2 linked regions of the Homo sapiens genome follow. The protein of the gene in region 2 purifies or fractionates together with the protein of the main gene of each other region. This does not show direct contact. Each region holds a gene or a part of one and is shown on either strand. Other genes may lie near its edges. The genes, in order: LAPTM4B and NRROS.

Region 1 (3,818 bases), on a different chromosome or scaffold from region 2:
GAGCTATGTCTTCAACTGTTGAAACTGATTGCTATTGCCACAAGCAGCTGCAAATTAACCTAATAATGCATAGCTCAACAATGGATAGCCAATCACGAACCAATGTTGTTTCTGTAAATCAAGGACAATTCCTGACAAACAACTTTGTATCAGTACACTCCCTGTTCCCCCTTTCAGTCTTTAAAAATGCACTTATAACTGCTGCTAATCTGTGTGTACAGTCAGGGCAACGTCAGTCTATATTCTGGGGTTGCAATCCTCAAGCCTGGCCCAAATAAACTCTCTACTTACATTAATTTTGCCTCAGCTTCTTCCTTTTAGGTCGAAGTTAAATATATTTAAAGTGAATCCGAGAGTGATTGGTATTAATAAACAGTTTTGATAGCAATCTTTATTTATTGGCCACCTTGTCTGTAAAACATTCTAATGAACATTTACCATAAAAGTGTGATAAGAGGCTCAGGCCTGCAATCCCAGCACTTTGGGAGGCGGGCGGATCACCTGAGGTCAAGAGTTCTAGACCAGCCTGGTCAACATGGTGAAACCCCATCTCTACTAAATTAAGCCAGGCGTGGTGGCCTGCGCCTGTAATCCCATGTACTCGGGAGGCTGAGGCAAGAGAAGGGCTTGAACCCGGGAGGTGGAGGTTGCAGGGAACCGAGATGGCACCACTGCACTCCATCATGGGTGACAGAATGAAACTGCCTCAAAAAAAAAAAAAGTGTGATAAAAGCTTAAAAAGATATTGAATACCACTGAAATCTCCACCAACCAATGTTCTATAGAACTGCCCTTGATCCTTTATTAGATGAGGGGAAACCTGTACTTTAAAAATCCAATGTCCTTCCCTATCTAAATCTGTTCAATTCCTTAAATCAGATGGAGAAAACCTAGGTAGAAAGAGAGACTTGTATCACTCACTAACTGGTAAAAATTCCTATCCATCTTATTCATACCACTAAGAGCTGATACCCACTATAGTTTGTATCTAGAGAGCTATATATAACATACTGCCTGGTTTTCCAGCCATCTGAAACAGCCTGCCATTTTAATCTAACTTAAAAACTGCTTTCATTGGCCAGGCGTGGTGGCTCATGCCTGTAATCCCAACACTTTGGGAGGCTGAGGTGGGCAGATCACGAAGTCAGGAGATTGAGATCATCCTGGCTACCACGTTGAAACCTCATCTCTATTAAAAATAAAAAAATCAGCGGGGTGTGGTGGTGGGCGCCTGTAGTCCCAGCTACTCGAGAGGCTGAGGCAGGAGAATGGCTTGAACCCGGGAGGCAGAGCTTGCAGTGAGTGGAGATCCCACCACTGCACTCCAGCCTGGGTGACAGAGCGAGACTCCGTCTCAAAAAACAAAACAAAACAAAAACAACAACCAAAAAAAACTGCTTTCATCATATCGCTCCTGTTCATAATTCTTCAATGGTTCCCCACTGCCTACAGAATAAAATCCAAACTCTTTAGCCTACTATTTAGTCTTTTACAATCTAACATAGTGGGGAAAACACCAGGCAATAAAGATGACACAATTGCCACAAATCAGTCCGTTATTCTATCCTGAAATTACGGGCCAAGTCACAGAATCTGACAGTTGGAAAGAAGCTATTAATCTTAAAAGAACATATCACCACCTATCATGCGTGACCCAGGGTTGCTTTGAGGTCTAAATAAGAACAAATGTGAATGCCCACCGAAAGCTATCAATCACTCTACAAATACAGGATGTTGGTCTTACTATCCTGTACTCAGACAAATCAATAGTTGTTGAACTTCTCAGAATACAAAGAAAATCTATCAGGCTTGTGAAGGGGTGAAGAAAATTCTCCCCCTTCTACAACTTCTGAAGGTTTGATCATTTGAGTCTAATAAACAAACTGATAATAGATCAACAGCAAGAAACGGCATACAAATGTATTACGTGCACACGCATACGTGGGAGTCACAGAAATAAGAAAACTCAAAGGAAGGGCCAGATGGTTTAAGTTTTAATGTCTTTCTGAAGTTACAGAAAGAATAGGGGTTTAGATCACGGCAAAACAGGTTATGGGAGGGAGGGACGGAAAGGCCTGGCTAGGGAAGGTGGTCTTGTTATGCAAATGAGACCCCACAGGTAGAAGGCTTGAGAAAAGATACTTGGTAGCCTGTGGTATGTGGTAAACTTCTCTATTAGACCTTCAAAGGTGTCAGACTCTCAATCTCTCGGTTAATCTTTCCAAGGTCTGAACATGGGGGATGGGGTGGGGAGGTGTGCTCAGAGAAAGCCTGGCTGTTTATTTCACTAATGCAGATTTTCCCTAAAGATGCAAATCTCCACAAACAGCAGCTTTTCAGAGCTATTCTTGTTTGCAGTTTCTCTAATACTATCTTGAAATATACCAAAGAGGTATATTTTGGGTGAGATATTCTGGTTTCCTTTACTTGAGTAAACAAGGAAACTGTGAGTTTCTATGTGAACAAGTGGATTCTTTGAAAGACCAGGTCTGCACTTGTATCCCAGAACTTAAAGTATAATTAAAAAACAAAAGAAAAAGAAAGAAAGAAAATTAAAAAGAAAGACCAGGTCATAAAGCCAATGAAGCAGCTACTCTGACCTCTTTTATCCTTTATAATCTGATATATGGCTAACTACCCTGTGAACAGTGTCTGGCACAGAGGCATTTGGTATGTATTTGCTGTGTCTAAGTTCCTAAAAAATAACTGAACAAGGATATTTAAAAAAAAAAAAAAAAAAAGGCCGGGCGCGGTGGCTCACACTTGTAATCCCAACACTTTGGGAGGCCAAGGCGGGCAGATCACCTGAGGTCGGGAGTTTGAGACCAGCTTGACTAACATGGAGAAACCCCGTCTCTACTAAAAAATAAATAAATAAATAAATAAATAAATAAATAAATAAATAAAATACAAAATTAGCCAGGTATGGTGGTGCATGCCTGCAATCCCAGCTACTTTGGAGGCTGAAGCAGGAGAATCACTTGAACCCAAGAGGCGGAGGCTGCAGTGAGCCGAGACTGCACCACTGCACTCCAGCCTGGGCAACAAGAGCGAGACTCCGTCTCAGAAAAAAAAAAAGGCTGGGGACGGTGGCTCACGCCCGTAATCCCAGCACTTTGGGAGGCCGAAGCAGGTGGATCAGGAGGTCAGGAGTTCGAGACAAGCCTGACCAACATGGTGAAACCCCGTCTCTACCAAAAATAAAAAATTAGCCAGGGATGGTGGCGCATGCCTGTAGTACCAGCTACTCAGGAGACTGAGGCAGGAGAATCGCTTGAACCCGGGAGGCAGACGTTGCAGTGAGCTGAGACTGCGCCACTGCACTCCAGCCTGGACAACAGAGTGAGGCTCTGTCTCAAAAACAAAAGCCTGGAGTGGTGTGGAGTGGTGGTGTGAGCCTGTAGTCCCAGCTACTTGGGAGGCTGAAATGGCAAGGCTGCTTGAGCCAGGGAAGACAAGGCTGCATTGAGCCACTCCAGCCTGGGCAATAGAGTGAGATCTTGTCACAAAAAAAAAAAAAAAAAAAAAAAAAAAGCTGGGCATGGTGGCTCAGGCCTGTAATCCCAGCACTTTGGGAGGCTGAGGGGAGCAGATCACCAGAGGTCGGGAGTTCGAGACCAGCCTGACCAACATGGAGAAATCCTGTTATCTACTAAAAATACAAAATTAAACAGGTGTGGTGGCGCATGCCTGTAATCCCAGCTACTAGGGAGGCTGAGGCAGGAGAATTGCTTGAACCTGGGAGTCGGAGGTTGCGGTGAGCCGAGATCGCACCATTGCACTCCAGCCTGGGCAACAAGAGCTAAACTCTGTCTCAA
Region 2 (3,818 bases):
GCAAACAGACTAATTGAAGAGCTCAATGAAACCGGGTAAGCCAGCTTTCACTTCAGGCCAGGCCAACTCCCCTTACTACAGAGAGAACCTCCAATGCAGAATTTACCAGAACTTGCCAGACACTGGGAATCCCCTTCCAGACCCATTTCTGCCTCTGCACCCACACAGGAGTCATTGCCTTGTGGCCGGCACAGGGAAGAGAGGGCAGAAGCAGAGGTGTACGGGTTCCTGACCTCAGGATCCCCCCAGCACCCTTCCCCGCCCCTGAAACCTGGGATCACCACCACTGCCCGCCATGAAATAAGGCTGCATAGTTGCAGATTTAGTAAATTACAAGGCATCATTTCAATGCTAGATACATCCTTATACTAACAAATTGTTTATCTGACATTCAAACTTCACTGGGCATCCTGAATTTTACTGAGGGGAGATGGGGAGGTAAGAACCCTCCCTTCCTCCCTGGCCACCTCTTGTCAGGTGTGGGGTGGTACCTGCTGCTGTGACTCCAGTCTCTCTGGAAGAGCCAGCCCTGCGTATCGAAGAACTGAATCTAGACGTGTAAGGGGCAAGAGTGCAGGTCCCTCAGCGAAAAGGCAACCTTCAGACTGGAAGGCAAGCCAGGCCTTGTGTCACACTCAGGAGGGGCATTTTAATTTATGGGTCATCAAGAATTTTGCAAGTTTAAAACATATCCTCTCCTTCCTCCTAAACTCAGCCAACCAGCCCAGAAAAAAACTCTTGTTGTGGCCCTGGCAGGAAGCAGCAGGATATCATGGGAAGATCATGGAATTTGGAACCAAGCAGACCAGAGTTTGAATTCTGCCTCTGTTATTTGTTATTTGTCCTTTAGGAATTCAGACAAAGTCTCCAAGACTCAGAGAATCCGTCTACAAAATGGGAGTAATAATAACTATTCCAGAGTTGCATGAGAATAACCAGTCTCATGAATGTGAAAGGGCTTCATGGCTGTAAAGGTAGCAAGTAACACAATTATTAATTATTACTTGTGAGTTCCAAACACCAGTGAGTTGACTGAGTGCTGGTTATTCCTGTGTAATCTCCAAGGTAGTTCAACAGCTACACAAAGTCTAAAATAAAGGCCTGAGTAATGTGGCTGGAAGGATGAATTATACCAACTAGATATGTAAAACATATGCAGGAAGGTTCAATTAAAAACTCTGCATTCATAAATTGCAGAGCAAGGCTAGCCCTGAGCACAGATGACTATGCTGGCTGACAGCGGTTTGTCCCCAGAGCTGCGCCTTCCCCTTCCCTGCCCTCCTCAGTGTGGCAGGGCTCTGACTTCTGAAGGTTCTGAATCTCAAACTCTGCTGTCACCTGGCCTCAAACTGCTGTCACCTGTCACAAACTCTGCTGGTTTAGTCAATGGAAGACACTCCTCCTGGGAGGTCAGACAGTAGAGGGCAGAAAGAATCCAGCATACTTCTCTCCCTTCCTCTCTGCCTTGGACAGAGACATCCTAGAGTTTCTTCCGCTGACCCCTAGGCTCTGGTGACACCACCTCCTCCTCTTTGTTTTTGTTCGTTTTGTTTTGTTTTTTGAGACGGAGTTTTGCTCTTGTTGCCCAGGTTGGAGTACAATGTTGTGATCTCGCCTCACTGCAAACTCCACCTCCCGGGTTCAACAATTCTCCTGCCTCAGCCTCCCAAGTAGCTGGGATTACAGGTGCACGCCACCACGCCTGGCTAATTTTTGTATTTTTAGTAGAGATGAGGTTCCACCATGTTGGCCAGGCTGGTCTCAATCTCATGACCTCAGGTGATCTGCCCGCCTTGACCTCCCAAAGTGATGGGATTACAGGCGTGAGTCATGGTGCCTGGCCCACCTTCTCCTCTTGTCCTCACCCTACCTAGGTGAGGATAAGAAGCTTCCTGAAGCTGCTCGTCGCTGTGTTGACTGTTTATTTGCTTTCTCAGCCTTTTCCACCATGTGTTGCCACTTTCTTGCATTAAATATCCTCTGTCTTAAATAATCTGGGCAGTTTCCGTTTCCTGGTTGGACCCTGACTAATACAATCATGTGAGAATGGCCAAGACCCAGTGCTAAATTAAAAGTATGTAATGACTGTAAAGAAATAAAAGGCTTTCAAAATAGTGACCATTGAGGTTGAGAAACACTCTTCGTAGAGTGTGTAGCTGCAGAGAGCTTCCTCAGAGCCATGGCACTGCAAAGAGTCCAAGATAAACAATCCTCTTGCCATATCTCTCTGCAAAATCCCGTGACTCATCCCCTGCATGCACAGGACTGCTTCCTCTCCTCCCACATCCTCAGGGCTGAGGACCACGCCACAGCATCTGCAGCTGTAAGAGGGCATCTAAGCCAGAGTGTGCCCAGCATGCAGGAACAGGTGGAAAGCCCAGCCGCTTCCCGAGGGGCTGCCAGCTGGTGAGTGTTCCTGGGACCCTGAGCTGCCTGTTGCTCCTGTCTGGACAAGGTTTGGCCCATTTGGAACACTGCTGCATTCTAACTAGTTATCATGGAATGCTGTGAGTCTACTCCATAGCCAACCTTGTCTATGAAGATGTGGTGTTGCTTTTTAGGCAGAGAAGACAACGTGGTTTTCTGCCTCCAGACCTGGTCATAGTAAGAAAGTGGTAAAAAGATTCATTCATAAAAACAACATGAATGGAGGTTGTATTCTGCAACAAGAGAATGCTGACAGTGAGGAAGAAGAACGTACAGCCGCTGCAAAGAGTCTCCTTTGTTTTAGAAATTATGTTTGTTGCGAACAGGTGCGGTGGCTTACGCCTGTAATCCCAGCACTTTGGGAGGCCAAGGAGTGGGGGGTCACTGGGTCTCAGGAGTTCGAGACCAGCCTGAGCAAGGTGGCAAAACCCTGCCTCTCTAAAAAAAATACAAAAATGGCCGGGCGCAGTGGCTCACTCCTGTAATCCCAGCACTTTGGGAGGCCGAGGCAGGTGGATCACCTGAGGTCAGGAGTTTGAGACCAGCCTGGCCAACCTGGTGAAACCCTGTCTCTACTAAAAATACAAAAATTAGCTGGGCGTGGTGGCGGATGCCTGTAATCCCAGCTACTCGGGAGGCTGAGGCAGGACAATCGAACCTGGGAGGTGGAGGCTGCAGTGAGCAGAGATCTCGCTATTGCACTCCAACCTGGGCAGCAGAGCGAGACTCTGTCTCTAAAAAAAGAAATGCTACAGAGTAGCTCAGATCTGAATTTTGCTATTGTTTTGTTTTTAGAAAAGGATGCTGGATTTCTACTATTCAGGTGCACGCTGGATATCTGAATTGTTATCCCGGCCAGAGTGACGGCCTCTCCTTGTTGGAGCTGCTCGGACACCTTACCGTCCCCACCCCCACCTCCCCTGACTGCTACTACGTGAGCAGCTGCTGCCAGAGCTGGGACCGGACCCTCTCCGCTAAAGGGGCTCTGAGCAAGTGCCATACGTATGTTACCACGTAGTTAAGAATTTTCTCCTCAAAGTAATCAGAGAAGCTGAAAAAGCTTTACGGAAAGAGGTCTCCTGGAGAAAGTGGGCAGCTCTCGGGGCACTCTGTGCTAGAAACAAATATTTTGGCCGGGCGCAGTGGCTCACGCCTGTAATCCCAGCACTTTGGGAGGCCGAGGCGGGTGATCACGAGGTCAGGAGATCGAGACCATCCTGGCTAACACAGTGAAACCCCGTCTCTACTAAAAATACAAAAAATTAGCCGGGCGCGGTGGCGGGCGCCTGTAGTCCCAGCTACTCGGGAGGCTGAGGCAGGAGAATGGCGTGAACCCGGGAGGTGGAGCTTGCAGTGAGCCGAGATCACGCCACTGCACTCCAGCCTGGGCG

What was found.
Region 1: the proteins of NRROS (region 2) and LAPTM4B purify together in Homo sapiens (affinity purification with mass spectrometry; one large-scale study listed by BioGRID and IntAct). This does not show direct contact.

What each region holds. Positions count from the first base shown.
Region 1 is NC_000008.11:97,781,996-97,785,813, reverse strand, and holds part of LAPTM4B (lysosomal-associated transmembrane protein 4B), read right to left. Parts: intron 1-3,818. UniProt on the Homo sapiens protein: Required for optimal lysosomal function. Blocks EGF-stimulated EGFR intraluminal sorting and degradation.
Region 2 is NC_000003.12:196,649,510-196,653,327, reverse strand, and holds part of NRROS (transforming growth factor beta activator LRRC33 precursor), read right to left. Parts: intron 1-3,818. UniProt on the Homo sapiens protein: Key regulator of transforming growth factor beta-1 (TGFB1) specifically required for microglia function in the nervous system.